Linked DNA regions of Homo sapiens. The protein of the gene in region 1 interacts with the protein of each later gene in a pairwise test. Each region holds a gene or a part of one and is shown in the gene's direction. Other genes may lie near its edges.

Evidence for each region.
Region 2: the proteins of RANBP2 (region 1) and UBTD1 interact in a two-hybrid assay, tested with the Homo sapiens proteins (one study listed by BioGRID).
Region 3: the proteins of RANBP2 (region 1) and MYBPC2 interact in a two-hybrid assay, tested with the Homo sapiens proteins (one large-scale study listed by BioGRID and IntAct).
Region 4: the proteins of RANBP2 (region 1) and FHOD1 interact in a two-hybrid assay, tested with the Homo sapiens proteins (one large-scale study listed by BioGRID and IntAct).
Region 5: the proteins of RANBP2 (region 1) and PDLIM3 interact in binary tests that used the Homo sapiens proteins (3 or more experiments, as listed by UniProt).
Region 6: the proteins of RANBP2 (region 1) and ARID4B interact in a two-hybrid assay, tested with the Homo sapiens proteins (one large-scale study listed by BioGRID and IntAct).
Region 7: the proteins of RANBP2 (region 1) and LRPAP1 interact in a two-hybrid assay, tested with the Homo sapiens proteins (one large-scale study listed by BioGRID and IntAct).

What each region holds. Positions count from the first base shown.
Region 1 is NC_000002.12:108,763,819-108,767,991, forward strand, and holds part of RANBP2 (E3 SUMO-protein ligase RanBP2), read left to right. Parts: coding exon 1-4,173. UniProt on the Homo sapiens protein: E3 SUMO-protein ligase which facilitates SUMO1 and SUMO2 conjugation by UBE2I. Involved in transport factor (Ran-GTP, karyopherin)-mediated protein import via the F-G repeat-containing domain which acts as a docking site for substrates.
Region 2 is NC_000010.11:97,505,309-97,509,481, forward strand, and holds part of UBTD1 (ubiquitin domain-containing protein 1), read left to right. Parts: intron 1-4,173. UniProt on the Homo sapiens protein: May be involved in the regulation of cellular senescence through a positive feedback loop with TP53. Is a TP53 downstream target gene that increases the stability of TP53 protein by promoting the ubiquitination and degradation of MDM2.
Region 3 is NC_000019.10:50,460,218-50,464,390, forward strand, and holds part of MYBPC2 (myosin-binding protein C, fast-type), read left to right. Parts: intron 1-1,324; coding exon 1,325-1,484; intron 1,485-1,682; coding exon 1,683-1,819; intron 1,820-4,128; coding exon 4,129-4,173. UniProt on the Homo sapiens protein: Thick filament-associated protein located in the crossbridge region of vertebrate striated muscle a bands. In vitro it binds MHC, F-actin and native thin filaments, and modifies the activity of actin-activated myosin ATPase.
Region 4 is NC_000016.10:67,237,256-67,241,428, reverse strand, and holds part of FHOD1 (FH1/FH2 domain-containing protein 1), read left to right. Parts: intron 1-1,974; coding exon 1,975-2,081; intron 2,082-2,461; coding exon 2,462-2,526; intron 2,527-2,543; exon of another isoform or gene 2,544-2,616; intron 2,617-2,981; coding exon 2,982-3,049; intron 3,050-3,121; coding exon 3,122-3,227; intron 3,228-3,300; coding exon 3,301-3,395; intron 3,396-3,660; coding exon 3,661-3,772; intron 3,773-3,859; coding exon 3,860-3,954; intron 3,955-4,046; coding exon 4,047-4,173. UniProt on the Homo sapiens protein: Required for the assembly of F-actin structures, such as stress fibers. Depends on the Rho-ROCK cascade for its activity. Contributes to the coordination of microtubules with actin fibers and plays a role in cell elongation.
Region 5 is NC_000004.12:185,518,003-185,522,175, reverse strand, and holds part of PDLIM3 (PDZ and LIM domain protein 3), read left to right. Parts: intron 1-4,173. UniProt on the Homo sapiens protein: May play a role in the organization of actin filament arrays within muscle cells.
Region 6 is NC_000001.11:235,317,769-235,321,941, reverse strand, and holds part of ARID4B (AT-rich interactive domain-containing protein 4B), read left to right. Parts: intron 1-4,173. UniProt on the Homo sapiens protein: Acts as a transcriptional repressor. May function in the assembly and/or enzymatic activity of the Sin3A corepressor complex or in mediating interactions between the complex and other regulatory complexes.
Region 7 is NC_000004.12:3,518,642-3,522,814, reverse strand, and holds part of LRPAP1 (alpha-2-macroglobulin receptor-associated protein precursor), read left to right. Parts: intron 1-2,621; coding exon 2,622-2,743; intron 2,744-3,823; coding exon 3,824-3,944; intron 3,945-4,173. UniProt on the Homo sapiens protein: Molecular chaperone for LDL receptor-related proteins that may regulate their ligand binding activity along the secretory pathway.

The sequences.
Region 1 (4,173 bases):
GGGCCTCGAAATACATTCAATTTTGGAAGCAAAAATGTGTCTGGAATTTCATTTACAGAAAACATGGGGTCGAGTCAGCAAAAGAATTCTGGTTTTCGGCGAAGTGATGATATGTTTACTTTCCATGGTCCAGGGAAATCAGTATTTGGAACACCCACTTTAGAGACAGCAAACAAGAATCATGAGACAGATGGAGGAAGTGCCCATGGGGATGATGATGATGACGGTCCTCACTTTGAGCCTGTAGTACCTCTTCCTGATAAGATTGAAGTAAAAACTGGTGAGGAAGATGAAGAAGAATTCTTTTGCAACCGCGCGAAATTGTTTCGTTTCGATGTAGAATCCAAAGAATGGAAAGAACGTGGGATTGGCAATGTAAAAATACTGAGGCATAAAACATCTGGTAAAATTCGCCTTCTAATGAGACGAGAGCAAGTATTGAAAATCTGTGCAAATCATTACATCAGTCCAGATATGAAATTGACACCAAATGCTGGATCAGACAGATCTTTTGTATGGCATGCCCTTGATTATGCAGATGAGTTGCCAAAACCAGAACAACTTGCTATTAGGTTCAAAACTCCTGAGGAAGCAGCACTTTTTAAATGCAAGTTTGAAGAAGCCCAGAGCATTTTAAAAGCCCCAGGAACAAATGTAGCCATGGCGTCAAATCAGGCTGTCAGAATTGTAAAAGAACCCACAAGTCATGATAACAAGGATATTTGCAAATCTGATGCTGGAAACCTGAATTTTGAATTTCAGGTTGCAAAGAAAGAAGGGTCTTGGTGGCATTGTAACAGCTGCTCATTAAAGAATGCTTCAACTGCTAAGAAATGTGTATCATGCCAAAATCTAAACCCAAGCAATAAAGAGCTCGTTGGCCCACCATTAGCTGAAACTGTTTTTACTCCTAAAACCAGCCCAGAGAATGTTCAAGATCGATTTGCATTGGTGACTCCAAAGAAAGAAGGTCACTGGGATTGTAGTATTTGTTTAGTAAGAAATGAACCTACTGTATCTAGGTGCATTGCGTGTCAGAATACAAAATCTGCTAACAAAAGTGGATCTTCATTTGTTCATCAAGCTTCATTTAAATTTGGCCAGGGAGATCTTCCTAAACCTATTAACAGTGATTTCAGATCTGTTTTTTCTACAAAGGAAGGACAGTGGGATTGCAGTGCATGTTTGGTACAAAATGAGGGGAGCTCTACAAAATGTGCTGCTTGTCAGAATCCGAGAAAACAGAGTCTACCTGCTACTTCTATTCCAACACCTGCCTCTTTTAAGTTTGGTACTTCAGAGACAAGTAAAACTCTAAAAAGTGGATTTGAAGACATGTTTGCTAAGAAGGAAGGACAGTGGGATTGCAGTTCATGCTTAGTGCGAAATGAAGCAAATGCTACAAGATGTGTTGCTTGTCAGAATCCGGATAAACCAAGTCCATCTACTTCTGTTCCAGCTCCTGCCTCTTTTAAGTTTGGTACTTCAGAGACAAGCAAGGCTCCAAAGAGCGGATTTGAGGGAATGTTCACTAAGAAGGAGGGACAGTGGGATTGCAGTGTGTGCTTAGTAAGAAATGAAGCCAGTGCTACCAAATGTATTGCTTGTCAGAATCCAGGTAAACAAAATCAAACTACTTCTGCAGTTTCAACACCTGCCTCTTCAGAGACAAGCAAGGCTCCAAAGAGCGGATTTGAGGGAATGTTCACTAAGAAGGAGGGACAGTGGGATTGCAGTGTGTGCTTAGTAAGAAATGAAGCCAGTGCTACCAAATGTATTGCTTGTCAGAATCCAGGTAAACAAAATCAAACTACTTCTGCAGTTTCAACACCTGCCTCTTCAGAGACAAGCAAGGCTCCAAAGAGCGGATTTGAGGGAATGTTCACTAAGAAGGAAGGACAGTGGGATTGCAGTGTGTGCTTAGTAAGAAATGAAGCCAGTGCTACCAAATGTATTGCTTGTCAGTGTCCAAGTAAACAAAATCAAACAACTGCAATTTCAACACCTGCCTCTTCGGAGATAAGCAAGGCTCCAAAGAGTGGATTTGAAGGAATGTTCATCAGGAAAGGACAGTGGGATTGTAGTGTTTGCTGTGTACAAAATGAGAGTTCTTCCTTAAAATGTGTGGCTTGTGATGCCTCTAAACCAACTCATAAACCTATTGCAGAAGCTCCTTCAGCTTTCACACTGGGCTCAGAAATGAAGTTGCATGACTCTTCTGGAAGTCAGGTGGGAACAGGATTTAAAAGTAATTTCTCAGAAAAAGCTTCTAAGTTTGGCAATACAGAGCAAGGATTCAAATTTGGGCATGTGGATCAAGAAAATTCACCTTCATTTATGTTTCAGGGTTCTTCTAATACAGAATTTAAGTCAACCAAAGAAGGATTTTCCATCCCTGTGTCTGCTGATGGATTTAAATTTGGCATTTCGGAACCAGGAAATCAAGAAAAGAAAAGTGAAAAGCCTCTTGAAAATGGTACTGGCTTCCAGGCTCAGGATATTAGTGGCCAGAAGAATGGCCGTGGTGTGATTTTTGGCCAAACAAGTAGCACTTTTACATTTGCAGATCTTGCAAAATCAACTTCAGGAGAAGGATTTCAGTTTGGCAAAAAAGACCCCAATTTCAAGGGATTTTCAGGTGCTGGAGAAAAATTATTCTCATCACAATACGGTAAAATGGCCAATAAAGCAAACACTTCCGGTGACTTTGAGAAAGATGATGATGCCTATAAGACTGAGGACAGCGATGACATCCATTTTGAACCAGTAGTTCAAATGCCCGAAAAAGTAGAACTTGTAACAGGAGAAGAAGATGAAAAAGTTCTGTATTCACAGCGGGTAAAACTATTTAGATTTGATGCTGAGGTAAGTCAGTGGAAAGAAAGGGGCTTGGGGAACTTAAAAATTCTCAAAAACGAGGTCAATGGCAAACTAAGAATGCTGATGCGAAGAGAACAAGTACTAAAAGTGTGTGCTAATCATTGGATAACGACTACGATGAACCTGAAGCCTCTCTCTGGATCAGATAGAGCATGGATGTGGTTAGCCAGTGATTTCTCTGATGGTGATGCCAAACTAGAGCAGTTGGCAGCAAAATTTAAAACACCAGAGCTGGCTGAAGAATTCAAGCAGAAATTTGAGGAATGCCAGCGGCTTCTGTTAGACATACCACTTCAAACTCCCCATAAACTTGTAGATACTGGCAGAGCTGCCAAGTTAATACAGAGAGCTGAAGAAATGAAGAGTGGACTGAAAGATTTCAAAACATTTTTGACAAATGATCAAACAAAAGTCACTGAGGAAGAAAATAAGGGTTCAGGTACAGGTGCGGCCGGTGCCTCAGACACAACAATAAAACCCAATCCTGAAAACACTGGGCCCACATTAGAATGGGATAACTATGATTTAAGGGAAGATGCTTTGGATGATAGTGTCAGTAGTAGCTCAGTACATGCTTCTCCATTGGCAAGTAGCCCTGTGAGAAAAAATCTTTTCCGTTTTGGTGAGTCAACAACAGGATTTAACTTCAGTTTTAAATCTGCTTTGAGTCCATCTAAGTCTCCTGCCAAGTTGAATCAGAGTGGGACTTCAGTTGGCACTGATGAAGAATCTGATGTTACTCAAGAAGAAGAGAGAGATGGACAGTACTTTGAACCTGTTGTTCCTTTACCTGATCTAGTTGAAGTATCCAGTGGTGAGGAAAATGAACAAGTTGTTTTTAGTCACAGGGCAAAACTCTACAGATATGATAAAGATGTTGGTCAATGGAAAGAAAGGGGCATTGGTGATATAAAGATTTTACAGAATTATGATAATAAGCAAGTTCGTATAGTGATGAGAAGGGACCAAGTATTAAAACTTTGTGCCAATCACAGAATAACTCCAGACATGACTTTGCAAAATATGAAAGGGACAGAAAGAGTATGGTTGTGGACTGCATGTGATTTTGCAGATGGAGAAAGAAAAGTAGAGCATTTAGCTGTTCGTTTTAAACTACAGGATGTTGCAGACTCGTTTAAGAAAATTTTTGATGAAGCAAAAACAGCCCAGGAAAAAGATTCTTTGATAACACCTCATGTTTCTCGGTCAAGCACTCCCAGAGAGTCACCATGTGGCAAAATTGCTGTAGCTGTATTAGAAGAAACCACAAGAGAGAGGACAGATGTTATTCAG
Region 2 (4,173 bases), on another chromosome or scaffold:
CCTACATAAAAACTGCATGTGCTCCTTTAAGTTGTGAGTGTGTGGAGGTCAAGATATTATAGGGAAGTGGTTGAGGTCAAGTGTATTCAAAGGAGAGGAGGTCTAGTCTCTGCCACTTTCTTGAGTGGTAATCTTGGGCAGGTCATTTGTTTCTTCCTCAGTTGATCCCCCGTTTTAAAAAGATAATATTTCCAGTTTCCTTCACAGAGATGTTATGGAGATAAAATAAGCTAATGGTGGTTTAAAAATTACTTTCATGGCTACACAGTGTGCTCAGATATGAGGTCCCAACACAGAGTTTCATCTGGCATTGGTGGAAAATGAAGCCTGGGGTCTCTGCTCCTTCCTAGTTGTTTGTGTGACTTTGGACAAGCCTCTTGATCTCTTTGAGCCTCAGTTTCCCCATTTGTGCCATGAGGTGACTGCCACCCTGATCACCTTTCAGAGAGGTTGTAAGATTAAAGTGAGACCCTGGATGAAAAGAGATTTTGTGATCTTAGAAAGTTTCTATTATTCCAAGCTACCAGGATTTTTACACACAAAAGCCATAGCCAGTGATTTTTCCCACTAGATCATTGAAGCTTACTCTTTTTTAAGGAGCAAAACTATAAAAGAAATGTTTAAAAACTATTTTTGGATGGGAATCTTTCTGAAACGAATGATATGCTTCTGAGCAAAATATTAATATACAGCTCAGAAAGAACCTCTGGTTTGGGACTAGGGGTTGTTGAGTTCATACCGGTGTGTACAGAGCGCCTGCTTGGTGAGAGTGGGACCACAAAAGGTTCTTTCTCTCAAAAGTGTTACCTCCCAAAGAAGAGACCTGGGGTGGGGGAGGGACCTAGTGGTGGGCAGAGGGAAATTGCTGGGGGAGAGCCCACTCCGGGAGTGCCCTGCCTCAAGGTTCCAAGTAGCAACACTGGCACTGCAGGAAGGCTCTTAAATCCTGTTCAAGGCTCTGAGTGGGAAGAGCCAGTCCTACCCGGTCAGTTACTGTGCTTATAGTAGTGTGAGGCCACGGGGCTTGTGAGACTCTAGGGCAGTGGGCCCCAAACTACGTGGTTCCCAGCTGTTGGGCTTTGGGGGTTCATGTTTCCACCTACAATCATTGCTGTGTCTTCTGCCTGGTAGACAGTAGTCACTTCTCTTTTTTTTCTTTCCTTTTTCTTTTTTTTTAAGTGGTTACCTAGATATGACATAAAATTTACTTGTATGTAACAGCAAATTTTTCAGTCTATAGTTTTGTAGCATGAGTACATTCTTTGTATTTATTGTTGTACAACCATCCCAGTACCCATCTCCAGAACTTTTTCATTTTCCCCAACTGAAACTCTTTTACCCATTAAGCACTATCCATTTCTTCATCCCCCCAACCACTGGCAACTGATATTCTGCTTTCTCTTTTATGAGTTTGACTACTCTGGATACCTCATATGAGTGGAATCATGTAGTATTTCTCCTTTTGTGGCTGGCTTGTTTCACTTAGCATAATGTTGTCAAGGTTCCATGGTGTAGCATGTGTCAGAATGTCCTTCCTTTTTAAGGCTGAGTAATATTCCATTGTATGTATATACCACATTTTGCTTATTCATTCCTCCATTGATGGACCCCTGGGTTGCTTCCACCTTTTGGCTATTGTAAATAATACTGCTGTGAACATGGGTGTGCAAACCAGGAGCAAAAGGTGAATGCTCTCTGAGTCTCTGCTTTCAGTTATTTTGTGTATATACCCAGAGGTGGAATTTCTGGATCAAAAGGTAATTCTATTTTTACTTTTTTGAATAACCCCCCATAACACTTTCCTCAGCAGCTGCACCATTTTATATTCTCACCAACAGGGTGCAAGAGTTCCTGTTTCTCTACATCTTCACCAACAGTTGTTATTTTCTGCTTTTTGTTGATTAGGTTTGGATTGGTTTTATAATAGCCATCCTAATGAGTGTGAAGTGGTTTATCATGTAGTGATCATTTATGCTGGGCTCAAAGAGCAGTCCCTCCAAATCTCTGGGAAAACAGACATCTGAGTGTGTTAGAATTGTGCATAGAGGCTGGGCATGGTGGCCTACACCTATAATCCCAGCACTTTGGGAGACCAAGGCAGGAGGATTGCTTGAGGCCAGGAGTTCAAGAAAAACCCGGGCCACATAGTGAGACCTCGTCTCTATTAAAAAAAAAAAAAAATTGGCCTGGGCACGGTGGCTCATGCCTGTAATCCCAGCACTTTGGGAGGCTGAGCCGGGCAGATCACGAGGTCAGGAGTTTGAGACCAGCCTGATCAACATGGTGAAACCCCGTCTCTACTAAAAATACAAAAAAAATTAGCCGGGCATGGTGGCACGTGCCTGTAATCCCAGCTACTCAGGAGGCTGAGGCAGGAGAATCGCTTGAACCTGGGAGGCGGAGGTTGCAGTGAGCCAAGATTGCACCACTGCACTCAAGCCTAACGACAGAGCAAGACTCCGTCTCAAAAAAAAAAAAAAAAAAAAAAAAAAGAGAGGAACCTGGCAGGAAAGGGGCTGGAACACCTTCTGCAAGGTGTGGGGAGGGAGACTGAAGGGACAGGGATGACTCCTCGTTTGTATGTTTTTCCTCTGGAAGTCTTGGGACAAGGAGCAAAGGGTGAATGGTGCCTAGGCAGCCAGTCACTAACCAAGTAGCCTGAATCTTAGTTTCCAGCCTGCGCACTTGGAGTTTTGTTGTTTTTAAAGGCTCAGAGAGATGTAATTAGCAGCAGCTCACCTTTGCAGGGTGTTTGCCATGTACTAGGAGCATCACGTGCAGTATTTGGGTTAATTCTCACAACCACCCTATGGGTGGATTCTGTTATCACCTTTTCACAGATGAAGAAGCTGAGCCTTAGAAAGGTAATGTCTGCTGCCTAAGGTCACACAGCTTGTAAACTGCAGAGCTGGGACTGGAACCCAGGTGTCTGATCTCAGAGCCCACGCTTTGGGCCAGTGTGTAGTTTGTCCTCATGAGAATGGGAAGAAGAGAACGCTTTTTTGTTTTGTTTTGTTTTTTAATGAGTTTATTATTGAGCACCTTCAGGCACCACTTTGCTGGATCCCTTCACAAACATCATCTCATTTGATTCTCCCTATTTTACCTATGGGAACATGCCTACCTATTTTACATATGGGAAAGCTGATGGCCAGGAAAATGAATGGATTGCCAGTGGTTATGATGCTAAGAGACAGAGCTGGAACTCAGCCTGAGGATGTTGATTCATTCCAGTGCTCACAGCTCGTTCCATTGTGCTGTGAGCCCTGACCAGCTCCCACCCCACCCCCATGGAAAGAAGCTGGTAGGTCAGCTGTGAAGTCTGCAAAACTCCAAGGACTATAGCCACTGCTTTCCTTTCACATTGCTGTCCCTTCTTCCTTTAATTTCCCCACCCCCAGACCACCACCTCCACACCTAGAAGCCATGTGAGTCCATCATCTTGGATCAAAGTGCTTGGCACATAGTAGGTGCTCAATAAATATGCGTTGAATGTTGTTTGAGGGCTCGGTGTGCTAGAGGCAATAGAATCTCAGCCAAGATTGTGTTCCTAAAGAGAAACACAAGTAGAATGCAAATATTGTTGTTTCCTCCTCCTTCTCCCAGAGCAAACCTCCGCTTTCCAACACCCAGATGCCAGGGACTTGAAGAAAAGATTGTCCTTGCTCTGCAAACTTTGAATTATTCCCAAATTCCCAAAGGAAAAGAGGCACAGAGAGTCATGTTAGCAAAGTGCTTGCAGAATCAGGTGTCACTCTTCGTAATTAATAAGATTAACAATCTCTTTCTTCTCTCAGCATTTTGCGGTTTTCAAAATGCTTTCTCAAGTATTAGATATCATTTGATCTCCACAGCCATCCTGTTAGATAGGCAAGGCAGGACTCATTTTTCCCGTTTTATAGGTGAGGACACTGAGACTTGGTGAGGATGTTAAGATACTCAAGGTTATTGACTGAATAAGTGGCAGAAATCATAGAGAGGGCAGCGGTTCCACTACTTTCTTTGCAGAGCCTCAGTTTCTGCATCTGTAAAATGGGGTAAGCATACATCATTTAGAGTAGTGAAGCGTGAAATGTGATCATGTGTGTGTGATGTGATCAGCACAGTGCCCACACACAGCACGGCGCCCACACACAGCACAGCGGATGCTTAGATGGGGAACAACGCAAAGCT
Region 3 (4,173 bases), on another chromosome or scaffold:
GGTGGGCAGAGCAGGTGCAGATGTCCCCCGTTCACAGCTGGAAGGGCAGGGAGGGGCCCAGAGGCTAGAGGACGGGCTGGGGCCAGGAGGGAAGCCTTTTAGCTGAGACTTGGCACGTGATGGGTTTTCATTTTCTTTTTTCACTGAGGTAAACGTCACATAACGGAATTAGTCATTCATCGTTTTAAAGCGAACAATTCAGCAGCACTTAGGACATCTGCAGGGTTGTGCAGCCACCGCCTCTACCCAGTCCATTTTCATCCCCCAGAGGAAGCCCTGTACCCAATAGCGCTACCCCCTGGTCTCCCCTGGCAGCCACCGATTTGCTTTCTGTCTCCCTGGATTTACCTACTCTGGACATTTCATACACATGGAATCCTAGCTATGTGACCCTTGTGTCTGACTTTGTTAGCTCAGCACAACGTCTTTGAAGTTCATCCATGCTGCAGGGTGCCGGGTGTGTCCATGCAGAAATCCTGTTTTTAGAATTCTTTTTTTTGAGACAGGGTCTTACTCTGTCACCCAGGCTGGAGTGCAGTGGTGCAATCTTGGCTCACTGCCTTCTCTGCCTCTGAGCTCAGGTGATTCCCCCCCATCTCAGCCTCCCATGTAGCTGGGAATACAGGCACGTGCCACCACATCCCGCTAATTTTTGTAGAGACAGGGTCTCAGTATGTTGTCCAGGCTGGTCTCGAACTCCTGGACCCAAGTCATCCTCCCACCTTGGCCTCCCAAAGTGTTGGGATTACAGGCATGAGCCACTGCACCTGGCCTTTATTTCTTTTAAATTTTTTTTTTTTTTTTGAGACAGGGTCTTACTCTGTCACCCAAGCTGGAATGCAGTGGCATGATCATGGCTCACTGCAGCCTCCAACCCGCAGGTTCAGGCAATCCTCCTCCCTCAGCCTCCCAAGTAGCTGGGACTACAGGTGCTGGCCACCAGACCTGGCTAATTTTTTGATTTTTTTAACAGACAAGGGTCTCGCCGGGTTGCCCACTCTGGTCTCAAACTCCCAGGCTCAAGCGAGCCTCCCACCTCGGCCTCCCAAAGAGCTGGGATTACAGGCATGAGCCACGGTGCCTGACCCCTTCTTAGCGTTGAATGATGTTCCTTTGTCTGGGCCGACTGTTTTGTTTGTCCATCCCTGCGCTGATGGGCGCTGGGTTGGTTCCACCTGTTGGCCACTGTGAGTAGTGCGCCATGAGTGACATTTTTTTAAACACTGGATGTGCTTTTCTCACCCCTTCTTTCGTCTGTGTCTTGTGTGTAATCGTGTGATCCTGTGGCCCCGACCCGCCTGGTCCCTCCCTGTCCCCACACTAGGAGTGGTTCAACGTCTATGAACGTAACAGGCACACTAGCTGTACTGTGTCCGACCTTATCGTGGGCAATGAATACTATTTCCGAGTTTACACCGAGAACATCTGTGGGCTCAGTGACTCACCTGGTGTCTCCAAGAACACGGCCCGCATCCTCAAGACAGGTACAGCCATCCTGCCCCACAGCCCAGGCCCACCCCGTCCACCCTCTCGCCCAGGTCCCACCTGGACTCCTGCCCTCCCCTCCCCACTGGGGTTGACGGCACCTAGTCATGGGAGAGAGGTGATTGCGGTTTGTTCCCTGGTTGGTGTCAGGGGAGAATCTAGATCAGTCGCCTTACGGGTGCATCCTCTCTCCCCAGGAATCACCTTCAAACCGTTCGAGTATAAGGAGCATGACTTCCGGATGGCTCCCAAGTTCCTGACACCTCTCATAGACCGCGTGGTCGTGGCTGGGTACTCGGCAGCCCTCAACTGTGCTGTCAGAGGCCACCCGAAGGTGCCAGGGCAGGGACCCAGATCTGCGTGTGTGTTGCCTTGTGGGGAATCTTCCATACAATGAAGCCCACTCCCCATCACGCCAGTTCTTCTTCCCCGAGTTCTCTGTCTCAAGGGATTTAGTCACTTAAAAAATTTTTTTAATTGATTTTTGATTTTTTTTTTTTTTGAGACAGGGTCTTGCTGTATCACCCAGGCTGGAGTGCAGTGGCACGATCACAGCTCACTGCAACTTTGACCTCCTGGGTTCAAGTGATCCTCCTACCTCATCCTCCCGAGTAGCTGGGACCACAGGCATGAACCACTGTGGCCAGCTAATTTTATAATTTGTAGAGATGGGGTCTTGCTATGTTGTCCAGGCTGGTCTTGAACTCCTAGGCTCAAGTGATTCTCCCGCCTCGGCCTCCCAAAGTGCTGGGATTACAGGTGTGAGCCACCACGCCCAGACTGGACTTGCTCACTTTTCACCCACTTCCTGTTAGCTCCTCTGACCAGAGCCCAAGTCTCAGACAATCAATCACATCTTGCCTTTGGCTTCCTGCCTTTTTCCTTCTTTCTTTCTTTTTTTTTCTTTCTTTCCTGAGACCAGGCTGGAGTGCAGTGGTGCGATCTTGGCTCACTGCAACCGCCTCCCAAGTTCAAGCGATTCTCCTGTCTCAGCCTCCTGAGTAGCTAGGATTACAGGCGTGCACCACCATGCCCAGCTAAATTTTGTATTTTTAGTAGAGACGGCGTTTTGCTGACCTCAGGTGATCCGCCTGCCTCAGCCTCCCAAAGTGCTGGGATTACAGGCATGAGCCACCGCTCCTGGCCTCTTGCCTTTTTCTTTGTCCCCTGACTGCCAGGTAACAGCTTGTCTCGGCAGCTTGAGGAGAGGACCATTAAGTCTCTCTTGCTCTGTCCAAGGACAAATGCCAGTCCCATGGAAAAAGAAACGTTGGGAGCAGGGGCAGCCTAGACCAGCACGGCTCCCCAGGGTCTTCCTGTCCAGCCATTTTCCAACTGCTCTTTGTGAACAGGGACACTTGCAACCTAGAGCTCATTTAGACCAGGGGTTGGCAAACCATCACCCATGGGTCAAATCCACCCACCACCTGTTTCTCTCAATAAAGTTTTATTGGAACACGGGCCAAGCATATTTGTTTATGTTTTGTTTACAGCTACTGCAGACAAAATGTAAATAAATGTGCGTGGCTCGCGTTCCAGGCCCAGAGACTACAGGGCCCAAAAAGCCTGAATTATTTACCATCTGGTCCTTTATAGGAACAGTTTGCCAGCTTCTGGTCTGGGCTGTAGGTTATTCGCTTCAGCCTCCTTAAGGCATACCATGTCTCCATCTCTGTATACTGTATTCACTAACTCCACTCATTCATGTCACTCATTCCACTCATTTATCCACCTACCAATCCATCCATTTACTCAGTTCATTCCTTCACTCCATTTGCTTATTTACAGCACTGTTTCGTGCTCTCATTCATTTATTCACTCCATTTATTCTTACAACAAACATTTTCAGAGGCTTTCAATGACCTGGGTGATTCGAACAAGAAATTTCCTGTATGTTGGGGGAGACTGACATTTGCCCAGAGTCACATAAATAATATAAAATTATGAAGGGCTGGGCCAGACACGGTGGCTCACACCTGTAATCCCAGCACTTTGGGAGGCCGAGGCGGGCAGATCACCTGAGGTCAGGAGTTTGAGACCAGCCTGGCCAACATGGTGAAACCCCATCTCTACTAAAAATACAAAAACTAGCCAGGCATGGTGGCAGGCGCCTCTAATCCCAACCACTTGGGAAGCTGAGGCAGGATAATTGCTTAAACCCGGGAGGTGGAGGTTACAGTGAGCCAAGATCACGCCACTGCACTCCAGCCTGGGAGACAAAGCGAGATTCTGTCTCAAAAAAAAAAAAAAAAGGGAAGGGCACTATGGAAGAGGGAACAGCCAGTGCCAGCGTCCTGAGGTGGGTGCCTGTCTGGTCTGTTTGAAGGACAGTGAGGTAGCCTGTTTGGCTGGAGCAGAGAAGTAATGGGGGTCAAAGAGTGTGGGACCCTGTGGGCCACTACAAACAGTGAGCTCTTTGTCCTGAGAGCAATGGGAAGACCCCACCGTTACCCTGTGAAGTGGGATTATCAACCTGCTTTTACATAAGAGGAGACTGAGGGTCAGGGAGAAGTGACTCGTCCAAGAACATCTGGCAAGAGGGTGGCAGAGCCTAGAACCCAGATCGGCTTCCTGAGCCCCATTTTGTCATCATTGCCCAGGGTCTCTCTCTAAGTTGGCCTCCTCTCCCTTGACTCTCAACAGCCGAAGGTGGTCTGGATGAAGAACAAGATGGAAATCCGTGAAGAT
Region 4 (4,173 bases), on another chromosome or scaffold:
CTGTGCCTGAATGGGGGTGGGGTGGTAGGCTGCTGAGTCACTGTGTGGGAAGAGATCAGGAGGAATGTGGGTTGCCCTCAGCTGAGCTGGCCCTGGACAAGATACCCCAGCCCTCAGGCCTTGCTGCCCCTTCTCAGGCCTGTTCCCAGTAGGCCCTGGAGAAGATGACTCTGCTCCCAGGGAGGGGAAAGTGGCCAGGCCTGCCCAAGGCACCCTGGGGAGGGCAGGCAGCCAGGCAGGAAGTGGGACAGAGAACAGGCTGGAGTGTTTGTCCTATGTCCCAGGTCCCAGGCGGGGGTGGGCGGGGGGGGGGGTCATCCAAGGGCCCCACAGGCTAAACTGTGGGGAAGGAGCCAGGTCAGGCTCTGAGGCAGGCGCAAGGGTTGCTAAACAGAGGTAGGGGTTGAGGCAGGAGCTGGACTCCCTTTTTCTCCAGGGGACCAAGGCCAGTTGGAAGCCCTTGGGCAGGGTCCAGAAGAGGGCAGGGCTGACCAAACAGCAGGACAAATGTTGGAATTGACATGCCCAGTAAGATGGAGACCAGAAGACACCCTGCCTCTCCAGAGGTGGGCTCTCCCTGGGCCAAGGCATCTCAAGGGCCAGAGCCACTTAAGTCAAGGAGACTTTGCTGAACCTGCATATCTGCACTGTGCAATGGAGGGAGGTGTCTGGGAGAGGTAGAGTGCCACCCTCCGACTCACAGGAGTCACCTCCCTCAGGCTTCTCTACAGGCACTTCTCAAGGGGCTAAGTGCCATGCCTTGTGGCGGGGGAGGAGAGCCCGGGGAGGGAAACATGGACACGTGGATGGAGCATGTGCCTGCTTGTTACAAAGGCAGGCTTTGGGGTCCTACTGTAGACTGAGTCAGACTCTTAAGTGTTTTGTTTTGTTTTGTTTTTTGAGACAGAGTCTCACTCTGTCTCCCAGGCTAGAGTGCAATGACATGATCTCGGCTCACTGCAATGTCTGCCTCCTGGATTCAAGCAATTCTCCTGCCTCAGCCTCCCCAGCAGTAGCTGGGATTACAGGCACCCGCCATCATGCCTGGCTAATTTTTGCATTTTTGTAGAGACGGGGTTTCACCACGTTGGCCAGGCTGGTCTAGAACTCCTGACCTTAGGCGATCCACCCTCCTCAGCCTCCCAAAGTGCTGAGATTACAGGCGTGAGCCACCACGCCTGGCCTAAAGTTAGTTTTTTAATAGGCCCCTTGGGTGTCTCTGAGGTCCAGCTAGGACCATTGTAACTGTAGCCCACTTTGGGAGAGGCCAAAGACCCTGAAATCTGGTGGGACTGGGAAGTCTATGGATCAGACCCTGTCTTCACCCTCTTACTCACTGAGACACACACACACACAGACACACTCTCCCGGGTGGGTTTGCACCTCCCAGCCATCTTAACACTTTCTTTCTGGGGCTTAATGCTTTGTGACTATAGCTTATCACCCCACAGGGCTGTGAGCTTCCTCGAAGGCAGGAACTTCCTCCCATCTTCTCTCCATTCCCCTTCCTCATCTGTGTTTATTAGCTCAACAAGTCCTAGTGAGTGCTTACTGTGTGTCAGGTGCTATGCCAGGCTCTATAGATACAGCAGGGAGCAAGACAGACGGAGTGCCTGAACGCAGAGAACGCAGCTAGAGGAGACCAGTGGCTCGGATATTAGAATGCTGTGTGGAAGGTCTCGAAAGGGAGCATACACACAGGGTGGAGTGGGTTGCATAGCAACCTAAAGAATAGGTAGGTATCAGCCAGGAGAGGAGATGGTACAAACAAAGGCCAAGAAAGCCTGGTGCCTGACACAGATGGGCTTTGCACATAGTAGGTGCTTGAGAAGCAACTGCTGAAGGAATGCACAGCTGTAGTGCAGACCCTGTGTCTCTCTGCCACCCTTCAAGTGGTAGGTAAGAGGTCAGGGGTCTTCATACATTCGCCTGCCACCTCTTCCTCAGTCTCACAGCTGTTCCCTTTGCCCCCAGTTGGAGGATTGTGCTCTGCAAGTGTCTCCCTCCGGATACTACCTGGACACCGAGCTGTCCCTGGAAGAGCAGCGGGAGATGCTGGAGGGCTTCTATGAAGAGATCAGGTCAGAACTGATGGGGCCAGGGAGGCAAGGTTACCCCCACCCTTGCCAGGGGCTAGCTCAAATGTCAGCAGCTGAGACACTCGATCACTAGCCTGAGCCATGGGTCACCTCCTGCCCCAGGGAAGTGTGCCAGGGGAATTCTAAAGCCTGGCCAGTGTTACCTGCTGCCCAAGGTGGGAGTTAGGGGCTCTCCCACATACCTGAGATACATGTGTTTGCACCAACCCTCTTGTCCGACCAACCCTTGGGTTCTTGGAGGAGCAGCTGGGAGGAACAAGCTGGGCTGGGGCTGGCATGGGGAGGTCTTTGGCTCCCTTGGCTTGTGGGGAGGAATGCTGAGGGATAGGCTGGGAGCTGCTAACAGAGATCCTTGATTCCAGCAAAGGGCGGAAGCCCACGCTGATCCTTCGGACCCAGCTCTCTGTGAGGGTCAACGCTATCTTGGGTGAGTGTGTGAGAGCATCCATGTCCAGCAGCACCTCCTCCCCATAGCCCAGTTGGCTCACCTTCAGGCCTGTGCTGAACAGTGAGCAAAGTAGGTTTAGCTGTATGTGCTCCTTCCTCTCCCTATCCTGACCTCTTCTTCCAGGGCCATGGTGGGAGTGGAGGGGGATTCAAGAATGTTAGAATAGACCAGGCGTGGTAGCTCATGCCTCCAATGCCAGTGCTTTGAGAGGTCAAGGTGGGAGAATTGCTTGAGGCTAGGAGTTTGAGGTTGCAGTGAGCTATGACTGTGCCACTGCACTCCACACTCCAGCCTGAGTGACAGAGTGAGACCCTGTCTCTCAGACCAAAACATATATATTAGACTATTCTTTGGTGGAGAGTTGTGGTTGTATCCAAGCAGAGGAAGACAGTGAGTCTGTGTCCATCAAGGGTTTTATACCCTACCTTTTGCAGAAAAGCTGTATAGCTCCAGTGGTCCTGAGCTCCGCCGCTCCCTCTTCTCACTGAAGCAGATCTTCCAGGTGAGGCCCCGCAGTGGGCTGGGGGTAAGTGTGTAGCCCAAGCTTCCCTAAACTCCCCCATGGTGCCTCTAGGAGGACAAAGACCTGGTGCCTGAATTTGTGCATTCAGAGGGGCTGAGCTGCCTGATCCGTGTGGGTGCTGCTGCCGACCACAACTACCAGAGCTACATCCTTAGAGGTCAGCCCCGCCCCTCTCCCATGACCTCTGCTCCAGCGACCCTCGCTGACTCTGCCCATCCCTGTTTCCCCAGCGCTCGGCCAGCTGATGCTCTTTGTGGATGGAATGCTGGGGGTGGTGGCCCACAGTGACACTATTCAGTGGCTGTACACATTGTGTGCCAGCCTGGTAAGTGGCTCTCCACTCAGCCTTATACCCTTTGCCTGTTGCTTCTCTCTGGGCCTCAGTTTCCTGTTCTGCAAAGTGAGCTGGAAGGGAGTGAGTCTGAGGCCTCTGTAAGCCTATAAGGCACTTCAGTGCCTGGGCCTGGGGCCAGGGTCATTCTGCCTAGATTCTCTCTGGGTCCAGCCCCAGCAGCCCTTCCCCTTCCCCAGCAACAGCTGGCACAGGTCTGGCCTAAGCCCCACTCATATGTACTGACCTCTCTCCTCAGTCCCGCTTGGTGGTGAAGACAGCCCTGAAGCTGCTGTTGGTGTTTGTAGAATACTCCGAAAACAACGCACCGCTGTTCATCCGTGCAGTGAACTCTGTGGCCAGCACCACCGGTCAGAGACTGTCCCTTTCTCCCCCCACCGCTCAGAGCCCTCTCTCCTACCTGTTCCCCCATGACTGCTCCACTTTCTGTGTGGCAGGTGCTCCTCCCTGGGCCAATCTGGTGTCCATCCTGGAGGAGAAGAATGGCGCTGACCCTGAGTTGTTGGTGTACACGGTCACCCTCATCAACAAGGTGTGGCCAAGGACTGGGTGCCAGCTCTGGGATGCTCAGGCTCCTGACCTCCCCACCAACCTCAGCCTTGCCTTCTTATCCCCGCCCTCCAGACGCTGGCGGCGCTCCCGGACCAGGACTCCTTCTACGATGTGACGGATGCACTGGAGCAGCAGGGCATGGAAGCGCTGGTCCAGCGCCACCTGGGCACTGCGGGCACTGACGTCGACCTGCGCACGC
Region 5 (4,173 bases), on another chromosome or scaffold:
GCTAGGAATGCCTTCTTCATTGCTATTACGAGGGTCGTGACAAATGGAACAAAGCTTTATTTTCAGTTAAAATATAATCTCTCCTGGAGAAGAAGGATCCTGAGTAATGTAATCTTTAGAGGAAATGAGTTTATTAGATTGTTGTCGTAGAGTTTTGACTAAAGGGAAGGTAGAGTCTGAATCTAAAATCCACTAAAAGCAAAAGTAGGAGAAAATAAGCCCCAAAAGGAGTGAGCAGGACAGAGAATATGTTCATGAAGGCAGGAACCTTGAGGCTGTTGTCTTCCCTCTGAGTCCCTCCAGCTCAATAAATAGCCCACAGCTCAATAAATAGCTGACAAATGGATGAAAGGAACTGGAGGGCCTAAAAATGAGCTGTGCATTTTCTAACATTGCCAGGACCTGTCCTGGGAGCCAGTTCTCAAAATGGTGTTCTGCCATCACTCTCAGCTGTTGCATGGAAAGTAATCTTGAAAGTTGAGTGGGGCCAGGCGCATTGACTCACACCTATAATCCTTTGGGAGGCAGAGGCAAAAAGATTGCTTGAGCCCTGGAGTTTGAGACCAGCCTGGGCAACATGGTGAGACCCCATTTCTATAAATTTTAAAAATTAACCAGGGCATGTTGGTACACACCTGTAAGTCCCAGCTACACAGAAGGCTGAGGTGGGAGGAGTGCTTGAGCCCAGGATGTCGAGGCTGCAGTGAGCTGTGATTGCACCACTGCACTCCAGCTTGGGTGACAGAGCAAGACCCTGTCTCAAAAAAAAAAAAAAAGAAAAGAAAAGAAAGTTGAGTGGGATACTTAGGCTAGGTAAGACTTTTGCTCTTTGGGGTAAGTGAGCAAAAGAAAATGGATGGCACAGATAATAAATATAATGAGAAGGGATCTGAATGCTGATGGCGACTCCCCCTGACATACTAGGTGGGCTGGTGAATAATGACACCTCTAGTCAACATTTTCTTTGCTAGAAGAAAATAGTGGAAGAAAAAAGGAAAGTTCTTGAGGTAGAGTTCTCACTTGTATCTAGCCTTTTGCAGAGATGCCCAGGCTGACCTGCTTCCTCCCACCGTCATCAATTTATCACCTGGAGGTGACACATGAGAAAAAGAGACTATATGGTGCTTTTAAGAATTAAAGTCAATAGACATGCACTTATTGACCACTCAGCCTCTTATCATTACCTGGACCAACCAGAAGGGACTCTGCATTTCCTTTTCCCTACACAGCACACATCCAATATTGCACTGCATCCTTTGCAACTTATTTTTCCATGCAAGAATTTCTCCTAATTTTTAAACCCAATTTCGTTAATATGAGATGCAAGAAATGAGGCCAACTAGATAGATCTGACCGAAGTACCAAATCCCCAGTGATCCTTCATCATGGTTGCATCCGTCACCCCAGCATGTAAGTAATTCAGCAAGTATTTACTAAGCACAAAGTGAGTTTAGACCAGGATGGGAGCCCACGTTTTGCTAACATCTCTCCAGAATTGGAGTTTAAGGGTAATTTTCCAAGTTGTAGCTCTAGCAGAGGCTTCTATTGCAAGTCTATGAGTATTAATTTATGACTATGGTTATTCTAAGGATGGGATTTTAAGGCATAATCCTAATTTTAAATACTCTGACCTCTTGTCAAGCATGTATTAGCCCTTGTGTCCTACATTTGGGGGTTAGAAAATATGAATATTTACAATACTACAAATGAGAAAAAGGAGATTAAATTGTTTTTTTTTTAAAGGTTGAGATTAGGTTAAGGGCTATAGCAGCCAGTCAGATGGAGCCTTGAAACATTCCATGACTTTGCGTCATGACTAATTCTTACTGACATCCTCTCCAAGAGGCCGGTGTTTGAAATGCTCCAAGATAAGAACAATTCAGTTCTACTAATGAACCAAAGGATTTCTACTCCTTATGAGACTCTTAGGCCAGATTTCTGCACGGCCAGTTTATGTAACTTGGTACTTCAGGACAGACATTCCCTACACAAAAATAACTAAATTGCAGTGTATCTCCTGCTATCCAAAAATCCTTTAGCGTAAACCAGAACAAAACGTGCTGATAAAAGTCAAACAGTGAGTTTCACTTGTGGACTGAGACGAGAGAAAAGCTAAGCTATGGTTATAGGGTTTTTTGTTTTTCTAAGTAATACAAAGCTGTGCAAAAAAGATGTCTTTTTCTTTTTTATCAAAATGACAACTCTGCAAATACAGCAATCTTCTGGACAGCAAATACGTGTCAGTTAGAGAAACAAATGCCATTAATATTATCATGCTTCAGGATGTCATTGCAGATGAATAGCAAAAGGCCATGGAACAATATGAAATTTGAGTTTTTGTTTCTCAACCCAAGTCAAACTTTTATTGTAAGTTATGTGACCTTTGACATTGGAATAAAATACACTTTCTCACTTACTTATTGGGGAAAAAACTATACCATCCAAGCCCAGCCACAGATATTAAATATTAGTATGTTTATTTCTGGGGGTTTTTTTCCCCTGTGAATAGGTTTAAGCTAAGGAGACATTTTCTTATATGGTTATAGGAATAGTTGATATAAAATTTTAATATCTAGATTTTTAAAATGTGGCCGGGCATGGTGGCTCACGCCTGTAGTCCCAGCACTTTGGGAGGCCGAGGCAGGTGGATCACCTGAGGTCAGGAGTTTGAGACCAGCCTGGTCAACATGGTGAAACCCTGTCTCTACTAGAAATACAAAAAATTAGCCAGATGTGGTGGCACACGCCTGTGGTCCCAGCTACTGGGGAGGCTGAGGCAGGAGAATCACTTGAACCCAAGAGGTGGAGGTTGCAGTGAGCCAAGATCGCACCACTGCACTCCAGCCTGGGCAACAGAGTAAGACTCCGTCTCACAAATAATAATAATAATAATTTTTCCATGCTATCATCAAATAGCTAAGTTTTGTTTCTCTGAGTTTAGACTTGAATCTTAGGCTTAAAGGGCACGTTAGTTGTTGTTTAGATCAACTCCCAGCACCTGAATAAATGCCTTCCATGCAATCCTGAACACAATCTATTTTTCTCTATTTTTCTGTACAAAAATAGACAAAATGGTCCATTTTTTAGTACGAAGTGTTGCTCTTGACTAAGAGTATGTTAATGAAGCTCTTTGTCCTTTTTCAAAGCTTACATTCTCAAACCATAACCCTCATATTTGCTTAATGTTAGTGGAACAACTCAAAGGTATACTGTGCCTGTCACAATACAAGAAAGATGCTTTCAGAAACAAAAATGGTTCTTATCTAAATAAGAAGAAAGCTGTCTCCATTTCCATAAAAAGGATTGCATCCTTGCCAGAGAAGATAATAGAGTTTACATACACAGTCAAGAAGAGTGTGGGATAAAGTCATTTTTATTTTCACAAATAAAAAGTGTTTTGGTAACTGGAAGGCAGCCCATATAAAACAAGCTTTCATAGTCACCATTTCCTCAAGCTCTTCCCAGTGAGAGATGGGAAACACTTGAAACTGCTCACTGGAGAAAAAAGGATGATGAGGGTGACTTTACTGTTTATTTGAGGGGTGAGTATGAGGAGGAAGTGATTCTAAACTTCAAACGTGATGAAATATAATTTCTTCATCATGCCTTGATCAAATATAAGATCACTTCATAGAGTTTGTTTCTCTTATATGCCCACCATTTTTTCATATATATATGATTTGATTTTATATACACATATGTATACATATTATATATAAATATATATGTGTATACATATATGTGTGTATATCTATGAATCAAACATACTGTTTCTGTTGGAGATGGTTCAGAATTATAAAGATTATCTGAATCTTTATCTGTGAGCAGTCTCCAAGTAAGAAGTTGAAAGGTGAAGCCTTTGACTGCTGTCATGTCTGAGGTCATTCCAAGGACATGGGAGACTGCTGTCCATGGTTGGATCCTCTTAACATCAGCAGAGTTCTGTCAAGTTACTTAGCTTTCACTGGGGCAGCTCTAGCATTCCATTAATTCAAAATGTTGTTCCTTAATATAAGCCTCTAACATTTAAAATAAAAATTTTAAATGTATCCATTAAGGGAATAATTACATATTGAATTCCTAAGAAATAAGAATTATTTGGGTGGTTTTTTCTAGATAGAATAAACACAAGAGCTGGACTATATTAACTGTTGTATACACTTTTTTAACTGG
Region 6 (4,173 bases), on another chromosome or scaffold:
ACTGCAAAAACAAGGGGAGAGCTGAATGTAAGGATGGAAATTCCAGGTAAGAAGTCCAAGTGGAAAATGAATAAGGGCCTGAACTAATGCATTGGAAGTGGAGCAGAGAGGATAGATCTGAGCCTTTTTGAAGTAGAATTCAGGGCCGGGCACAGTGGCTCACACCTGTAATCCCAGCACTTTGGGAGGCTGAGGTGGGTGGATCATGAGGTCAGGAGATTGAGACCATCCTGGCTAACACAGTGAAACCCCGTCTCTACTAAAAAAATACAAAAAATAGAAATTAGCCAGGCTTGGTAGCGGGCGCCTGTAGGACGCTGAGGCAGGAGAATGGTGCGAACCTGGGAGGCGGAGCTTGCAGTGAGCCGAGATCACGCCACTGCACTCCAGCCTGGGCGACAGAGCAAGAGTCTGTCTTAAAAGAAGTAGAATTCAGGACCTAGTAACTCATCCTGGGGTAGGAAGAAGATGGAGGTTTTTTTCTTAGGAAATTAGATAGATGTTACTGTCATTTGAAGCATGCTGTCATTGGACCTGCTAGTTAAGATGTAAGAGTAAGTAGGTAGGATGAAGTCAGAGGCTTGGTTAATCTGGTGTGAATGTTAACCTCATATCTATGATATTTGAAGGGATTTAAGATCCATAACATGGCAAATTTTGTGCTATAAATTTGTGGTCCTTTAGATGAATAGGTAATCTTGTAAAATACTAACATGTTTTCTGTCCAAATTGCTAAATCTTTGTTTATTGTAATTAAAAAAAATACTAGGTGAGTACCTATGTCACTGAAGAATGTTTTTGCCAAGTCAGCCAGTGAATTCAGTCATTGAACACATTGTGTACTTTCCTTGTACCGGACATTGTTCTGGGTTTTGAGGATGCAGCAGTGAATAGAACAAGAGTTCTTACCCTCGTGGAGTTTACTTTCTACTATGGTGGACACACGTTAAGAAAAAAAATAATGCTAAGTGCTTTGAAGAGAAATGATACGGAATCAGAATAAGAGGTTAGAGTGACAGAGGGTGGGTTACTTTAGATTAGGTGATAATGGAGGGCCTTTTCGAGATGACATTTAAGTGTGCTGTGAAACAAGTGATAGAGTGAGCCATTCAGGTTTCTGGGGGAGGAGCATTCCCTGCAGAAAACAAGTGCAAATACCCTGAGATGGAGTGTGCTTGGCATGTTTGAGTGTGATACATTTAAGGAACATTAAGGCCATCAGGGCTGGAGTGGTAGGAGAGGAGGTCAGAGAGGGTCACAAAGGGCCAGTACAATTGTAGGGCCTTATAGGACATGGTAAGGACTTGAGTAAAATCTGAATGTGTTAGGAACCCTTTGAAGGGTGTTGAGTGAAGTGATGTGATAAACATTTTCAAAAATGTTTGACTGCTGGGTAGTGAACACATCATGGGTTCGAACAGATCATGGGAACACAAGAGTGGAAGTAGGGAGATCAGTCAGAAGGCTGTCAAGCTAGTCCTGGGGAGAGATGGTGGTGAGGAGAAATAGTAGTATTGGGAATATATTTGAAGATGGGGATGATTGGATTTCAATGGATTGGGTGTGAAGGGAAAATTCTACTTACTGCAACTTGCACATGTATGTCCTCCCACAAGTGCCCTCCCTCCTTTTCTTTTGAGACGGAGCCTCTCTCTGTTGCCTAGGCTGGAGTGCAGTGATGTGATCTCGGCTCACTGCAGCCTCTGTCTCCCGAGTTTAAGTAATTCTCTTGCCCCAGACTCCCCTGTAGCTGGGATTACAGGCACCTGCCACCACGCCTGGCTAATTTTTTTTGTATTTTTTGTTTTTTTTTTTTTAGACGGAGTTTCGCTCGTTACCCAGGTTGGAGTGCAATGGCACGATCTCGGCTCACTGCAACCTCTGCCTCCCAGGTTCAAGCGATTCTCCTGCCTCAGCCTCCCAAGTAGCTGGGACTACAGGCATGTGCCACCATGTCTGGCTAATTTTTGTATTTTTAGTAGAGACGGGGTTTCACCATGTTGGCCAGGCTGGTCTCAAACTCCTGACCTTGTTATCCACCTGCCTCGGCCTCCCAGAGTGCTGGGATTACAGGTGTGAGTCACCTCGCCCGGCCTTTTTTTTTGTGTTTTTAGTAGCAATGGGGTTTCACCATGTTGGCCAGGATGGTTCTGAACTCCTGACCTTAAGTGATCCGCCCGCCTTGGCCTCCCAAAGTGTGAGCCACTGCACCTGGCCGTCCTCCCTTTTTTTAAAAAAGTCTTTTTGCTGTGATTAGTTGGTAGATGGGATTCTTGGAACTGAGTATGACCATGAAGGCATTGTCAAATCTTAGCCTTCTCAGTGAGCAGTGAACATTGAGTTGAGCAATCCTTTCACTTGTTTTTTTAATTAAAAAAAATGAGATATAATTCACATACCATAAAATTCACCCTTTTATTTTATTTTTTTTGAGACATGGCCACAGTCTGTTGCCCAGGCAGGAGTGTAGTGGCGCAATCACAGCTCACTGCAGCCTTGATCTTCAGTGGGCTCATGTGATCCTGCTTCAACCTCCCAGGTAGCTGGGACCAGAGGTGCACGGCACCATGCCCAGCTAACTTTTAAATTTTCTGTGGAGGTCTCACTGTGTTGCCCAGGCTGGTCTTGAACTCCTGGGCTCAAATGATCCTCCCATCTTGGCCTACCAAAGTGTTGGGATTACAGGCATGAGCCACCGCGCCTCACCAAATTCACCTTTTTAAAGTGTTCATAAATTTCTAGTATTTTCACAAGTTTGTGCATCCATCACTACTATCTTTTGAAAACTTTTTTGTTAATTTCTTTTGTTTGTTTTTTTAGAGATGAGGTCTTGCTGTGTTACCTAGGCTGGCCTTGAACTCTTGTGGTCAAGTGATCTTTCCCCCTCAACTTCCTGAGTAGCTGAGACTTCAGGCACGTTACTTATCCCTAGCTATCTGTCACTGCTATTTAACTCCAGAACATTTCCAAATTCCCAACAAGAAACTTCTTATCCATTAGCAGTCATTCACTGTTCTCCCTTTCTTTTATCCCTCCAGTAACTAATCTAAATTTTTTTTTTGAGAAGAGTTTTGATTCTGTCACCCAGGCTGGAGTGCAGTGGCTCGACCATGGCTCACTGCAGCATCGACCTCCTGGGTTCAAGCGATCTTCCTGCCTCCAGCTCCCAAGTAGATGGGATTACAGGTGTGCGCCACCATGCCCAGCAAATTTTGGAATTTTTTGTAGTAGTGAAGTCTCACTATGTTCCCTAGCCTGGTCTGGAACTCCTGAGCTCAAGTGATCCTCTTGCATTGGCCCCCAAAGTGCTGGGATTACAAGATTCAGACACTGAGCTTAGCATTTACTTTCTGTCTATAAGGATTTGCGTATTCTGGGCATTTTCTGTTAACGGAATCCTGTAATACATATGTGGCCTTTTTGTGTCTGATTTCTTTTACTTCCCATAAGTGAAAGAAGTAGCAAGTGTTGACCAGGCGCGATGGCTCACGCCTGTAATCCCAGCACTTTGGGAAGCCGATGTGGGTGGATCACGATGTCAGGAGTTCAAGACCAGCCTGGCCAAGATGGTGAAACCCCATCTGTACTAAATAAAAAAATTAGCCGGGTGTGGTGGTGGGCGCCTGTAATCCCAGCTACTCAGGAGGCTGAGGCAGAGAATTGCTTGAACCTGGGAGGCAAAGGTTGCAGTGAGCTGCGATGGCGCCACTGCACTCCAGCCTAGGTGTCAGATCAAGACTCCGTCTCAAAAAAAAAAAAAAAAAAAAAAAAAAGGAGTAGCAAGTGTTAATACTATGCTCTTTTTTATTGCTGAATAATAGTCCATCTTATGAAGATACGACATTTTGTCAGTCTACTTATTTGGAGGACATGTGGGTTATTTCTGCTTTTTTGCTTATTGTGAGTAATGCTGCTATGAGCATTTGTATGTAAGTTTCTGTGCGAACATGTATTTTTAATTCTCTTGGGTCCTGGGAGTGGACCTTTCAGTTCTTAGGGTACTAATATTACCTGTGTGATAACCTGGGGAGTGCTGAGTATTTAACTTCATGTATTTTGTGTTGTGGCAAGTGGCCACCAAGGAGTTGGACATTTAAAAAATTAATTCAATATTTATTGAATACTTATTATGTATTGGTCTCTGTTCTAGTCAGTTGGAATATGTCAGGGAAC
Region 7 (4,173 bases), on another chromosome or scaffold:
TCTGCTCTGGGGTTCGCTCCTGTCCTCACCCCCACCGCGCCCCCAGGGCCACTTCACTCCCCAGGCAGGGAGTGTGGGGCGGCGTCCGTCCTCCCCAGGCAGGGGGTGTGGGGCGGCGTCTGTCCTCCCCAGGCAGGGGGTGTGGGGCGGCGTCCGTCCTCCCCAGGCAGGGGGTGTGGGGCGGCGTCTGTCCTCCCCAGGCAGGGGGTGTGGGGCGGCGTCCGACTTCCCCAGGCAGGGAGTGTGGGGTGGCGTCTGTCCTCCCCGGGCAGGGCGTGTGGGATGACGTCCGTCCTCCCCAGGCAGGGAGTGTGGGGCCGTGTTCATCCTCCCCAGGAGCTCTAAGGGCTCGGTGCTCCTGAGGCCGCCTCCAGCTTCAGTGCTCTGTGACTCCATTCCATGCAGAAGAACCCAGCACCTCCAGAATCCAGAACCTTCCATAGTCCCTGCTGCTGATCGCAGCCGTGGGTACTCTGCCTTTTGATGGGGTCTGACCAGCCACTTTGGGCTCTGGCTCAGAGCTTTTGGCTCCAACTAGGAAGGCTTGAGCCAGGCTAGCCTCAGAGCCCCAGGACATGGCCCACCCTCCCCGTCTCCCCCTCTCCTCCTCTCGGGCTCAGGGGTGCACGGCCTGGGGGTGGGACCTCAGTGCTGCTGAGCAGTGGCTGGACTTGGGGGTCTGGGCAGGACGGCCTTCACAGGCAGGCCTGGCACTGGCTTTCTAAGGCCAGGAGGCATCCAGGCCACTTTTTTAAAAAGTTTGTGTATTTTTGTATGTATTTATTTCATTTATTTTCTCATCCCCCACAGCCGGTATTATTTATTTAATTATTTATTTATTTTAAAAGATGGGGTCTCACTTTGCTGCCCTGGCTGGTCTTGAACACCTGGGTTCAGACGGCCCTCCTGCCTTGGCCTCCCAAAGTGCTGGGATCACAGGCATGAGCCACCGCGCCCGGCCTAAAATAGTTATTTCAGGTATAAATTCCCTGCCATGGAAGACAGGCCCAGCATGTGGTTGAGCTTTGAAGCATGCATCTACGGGACCCGTGCCCAGCGCCAGCAGCTCTTGACTGCTGTCAGGAGAGACGGCTTTCCTCAGGGACAAGACCACAGGCTGGTTTTTCACGCTTAGGAAGATCACAAGCGCTTCCAGGCTGGAACACAAGAAGCACATGCTGCGTGTGGCCTTGAGACCCCCATGGCCCAGGCTTCCGGACAGAGTGAGACAGGAGGGATCAGAGGCCAGGGTGGTGTCGATGAGAAAGGAGGCCTGAGGCTTTCAGGGTGTCCCTCGAGCAGGGACACTCCCCAGGGCTGGCAGTGACAGAGGATGGACCTTTGGGAGAGGTGCGGGGGTGGGGCCTGCTGAGCCCAGAGCATGTGGAGGCCCCGCTGGGAGTAGTTCTGTCCAGTAGGGTCACGGGTGAAGGCCCAGAGGAGGCGCTGGGGTCCGGGAGTCACCATCTGGGTGAAGAGGTCCTCGGGGTGAGGGGAAGTGTGAGGCGAAGGGAGGCTCCGAGCCCAGCATCTTGGGAGAGGCCTACTCGGGGCCCTCTCGGCCCGGAGGGGAAGGCAGGACCCCATTCTGTGGGAGGCGGGGCCCTGGGAGAATTCCCCCAGCCCCCAGGAAAGGGCGGGCAGGCAAGCCCACCGCCCGCTAAGGAGGCGGGTGTGGTTGCATGGGCCCCGGATTCCAGGGGACCTAGTAGAGGGCCTGTCACACAGAGCCACAGCACAGGACTTGGAAGTGGGAATTGGGGCCTGGGGAGAGCTACTGCCGTGGAGGGCGAGGCCAGCCCCCAGGCTCTGCTCTCACATCCCAAGTGCAGGACTTGTCCTGTTGGCACCAGGGCCCGCGTCGAGCGCCTGCTTTCATATCATGTTGGTGGCAGCGTGTGGTGACAGACACAGCCCACAGATGCCGAGTCCCCCCTAGGGAAGCGGGGCTAGGGGAGCACCACGTGGGCAGATCCTAGAGGGCTCCCCGAGTGGCTGGGCCACAGCACACTGCAGACTATTTATTCCTCCTGGCTGCTACCAGTAACTTTTTGTTAGAAGCTGCTGACACTGACGTTTCTCCTTTAGAAACTGTTTTTCCTCCCAATAAATATAAGATGTGTGCTGTCAGAAAGCCCTGCCACCCTGCACAGTCTGCAGGTGGCCTCTGTCCTGTGGTCCTTAGAGTTTTTGCCCTATGGCAGCAGGTGAGGCTGCAAATTTTGTTCTTGAAAATCTGTGCAGCTGGTCGCTAAAGACGGGCCAATCGGTAACCACTCTTACAGCCCAGCCCACCAGCTGCTTTCGACAGCTGCGTCTCAGGGGGACACAGCTTGATGGAGGACTCCAGCCGGCGTGTCCCTGGTAGGAAAGAGGGAGGTCCTGGGGGTGTCCCGTGAGTCGCCAGACCCGTTCCTAAGTGCTGGGAGACCACAGACCCCACGCTTGTTTACATTCTTGTTCTCCCCAGATCTCCAGTGGTCATCCAGGAAACAGGTGAAAGGAAACTACTGGAAAATGAGAGGCAAACCTGTCTCACCCACCGTGGCAACCCAGATGTGTTGGCTTTTGACTGTTTTTCACAGGAAACCATATCAAATAGAACCTCCCCTCTCTCCTAGTCATCTTGGCCAAGTATGGTCTGGACGGAAAGAAGGACGCTCGGCAGGTGACCAGCAACTCCCTCAGTGGCACCCAGGAAGACGGGCTGGATGACCCCAGGCTGGAAAAGCTGTGGCACAAGGTACTCTTCGATTGTTTGCATACCTTGCAGAATTGGTGCCGTTACGTTGAGTGTTAAGGCGGGGGCTGTGAGGGGCAGTCTCTGCTCTGCATGGGAGCCGGGGTTTGGGAAAGTCTCAGGAAGACGGTGGCTTCCTAAGGAAGCCATTCCACTGTCATTCTGTGAATCTTTTCAGCTTTCCTGTTTAGAAGATTCCTTGCTCTTTGAGTAAAGGAGCTCTGTTTGGCCTTTGGCCTGCAGCTGTCAGACCTTCAGCTCAGGTCACGTGTGGTTACGGGATGGTGACGTAGCATGGGCTGCGTTCTTTACTCCGTGTCGGATTTTTAATGTAGTGAGTGGTGCCGTGGACGTGCCTCTGTGATTAGAAAGGTGCCCTCGTGTGTGGGGCTGGGCTTTCACCCTGTGCCTGGGAAGGGTGCGGGGCCAGGCGCTGGGACCCAGCAGGGCCTGGTGGGCTGTGGCAGGGTGTTTACCTGCCGCAGCTCCCCCATTTCCAGCGGCTCCTGCTCCAGAACAGTTTCTCTGGATCACATTGATTTGGGGTCAACAGTTAGACTTCTTGTACTAGCCCAGTCTCAGCTCAATGTCCTTGGCCAGGAGAGATGGAGTCGGTAGAAGGGGGCAGAGAGGGAGAGAGGGCCCTGTGTGGCCTCCCTGGACGTGTGTGAGCCACGTCATCTCACAACCAGGAGGCAGGTGGGATGACAATGAGGGGCTGGCAGAGGTCCCCCTAGGAAGGTGGCCTTGCTGTCCTCACCACCTGCAGCCGGGAGAGCCAGGCAAGCCCGGGGTCACCGGGCTGCTGCCCTGTCCCCCTCCTTGGGATCTTCTGCTCCCCACCCCAGCCAGCTCGGTAGCTGTCCCCTGTTGAGCCTGGACACGTCCAAGAGAAGGGTGGTTGCCTGCCGGCAGCTCTTCTCCGGTTTGTTTTTTGTTTTCCTGCCCTTCGTGAGGCCAAGAACCTGGCCTGGCACTCACGTAGGCAAGGGCCTGCCTGGCCATGAGGAGTGGTTGGCTGAAGAGCGGCCCTGGCCACACGAGCCCGCGGCGGGTTCACTCCAGGCCTTGTTTCCCTCTTAGGCGAAGACCTCTGGGAAATTCTCCGGCGAAGAACTGGACAAGCTCTGGCGGGAGTTCCTGCATCACAAAGAGAAAGTTCACGAGTACAACGTCCTGCTGGAGACCCTGAGCAGGACCGAAGGTGCCCCCCGCCCCCACCCCCTCCTGCCCTCTGCCCCACCCCCTCCTGCCCCCCACCCCTCCTGCACCTGAGGCTCGTTGTGCTCAGTGGGCAGCCTCAGCTCCCCTCAGGAACACAGCAGGGGCAGGGAGGCGGCACCAGACGCCCTCCCAGGGTTCCACCGGACTTGTGAGTGGGGAGGTTGCTGTGCAGGCAGGCTCTGGGAGTCGCCTGCCTGCATTGGATGAAC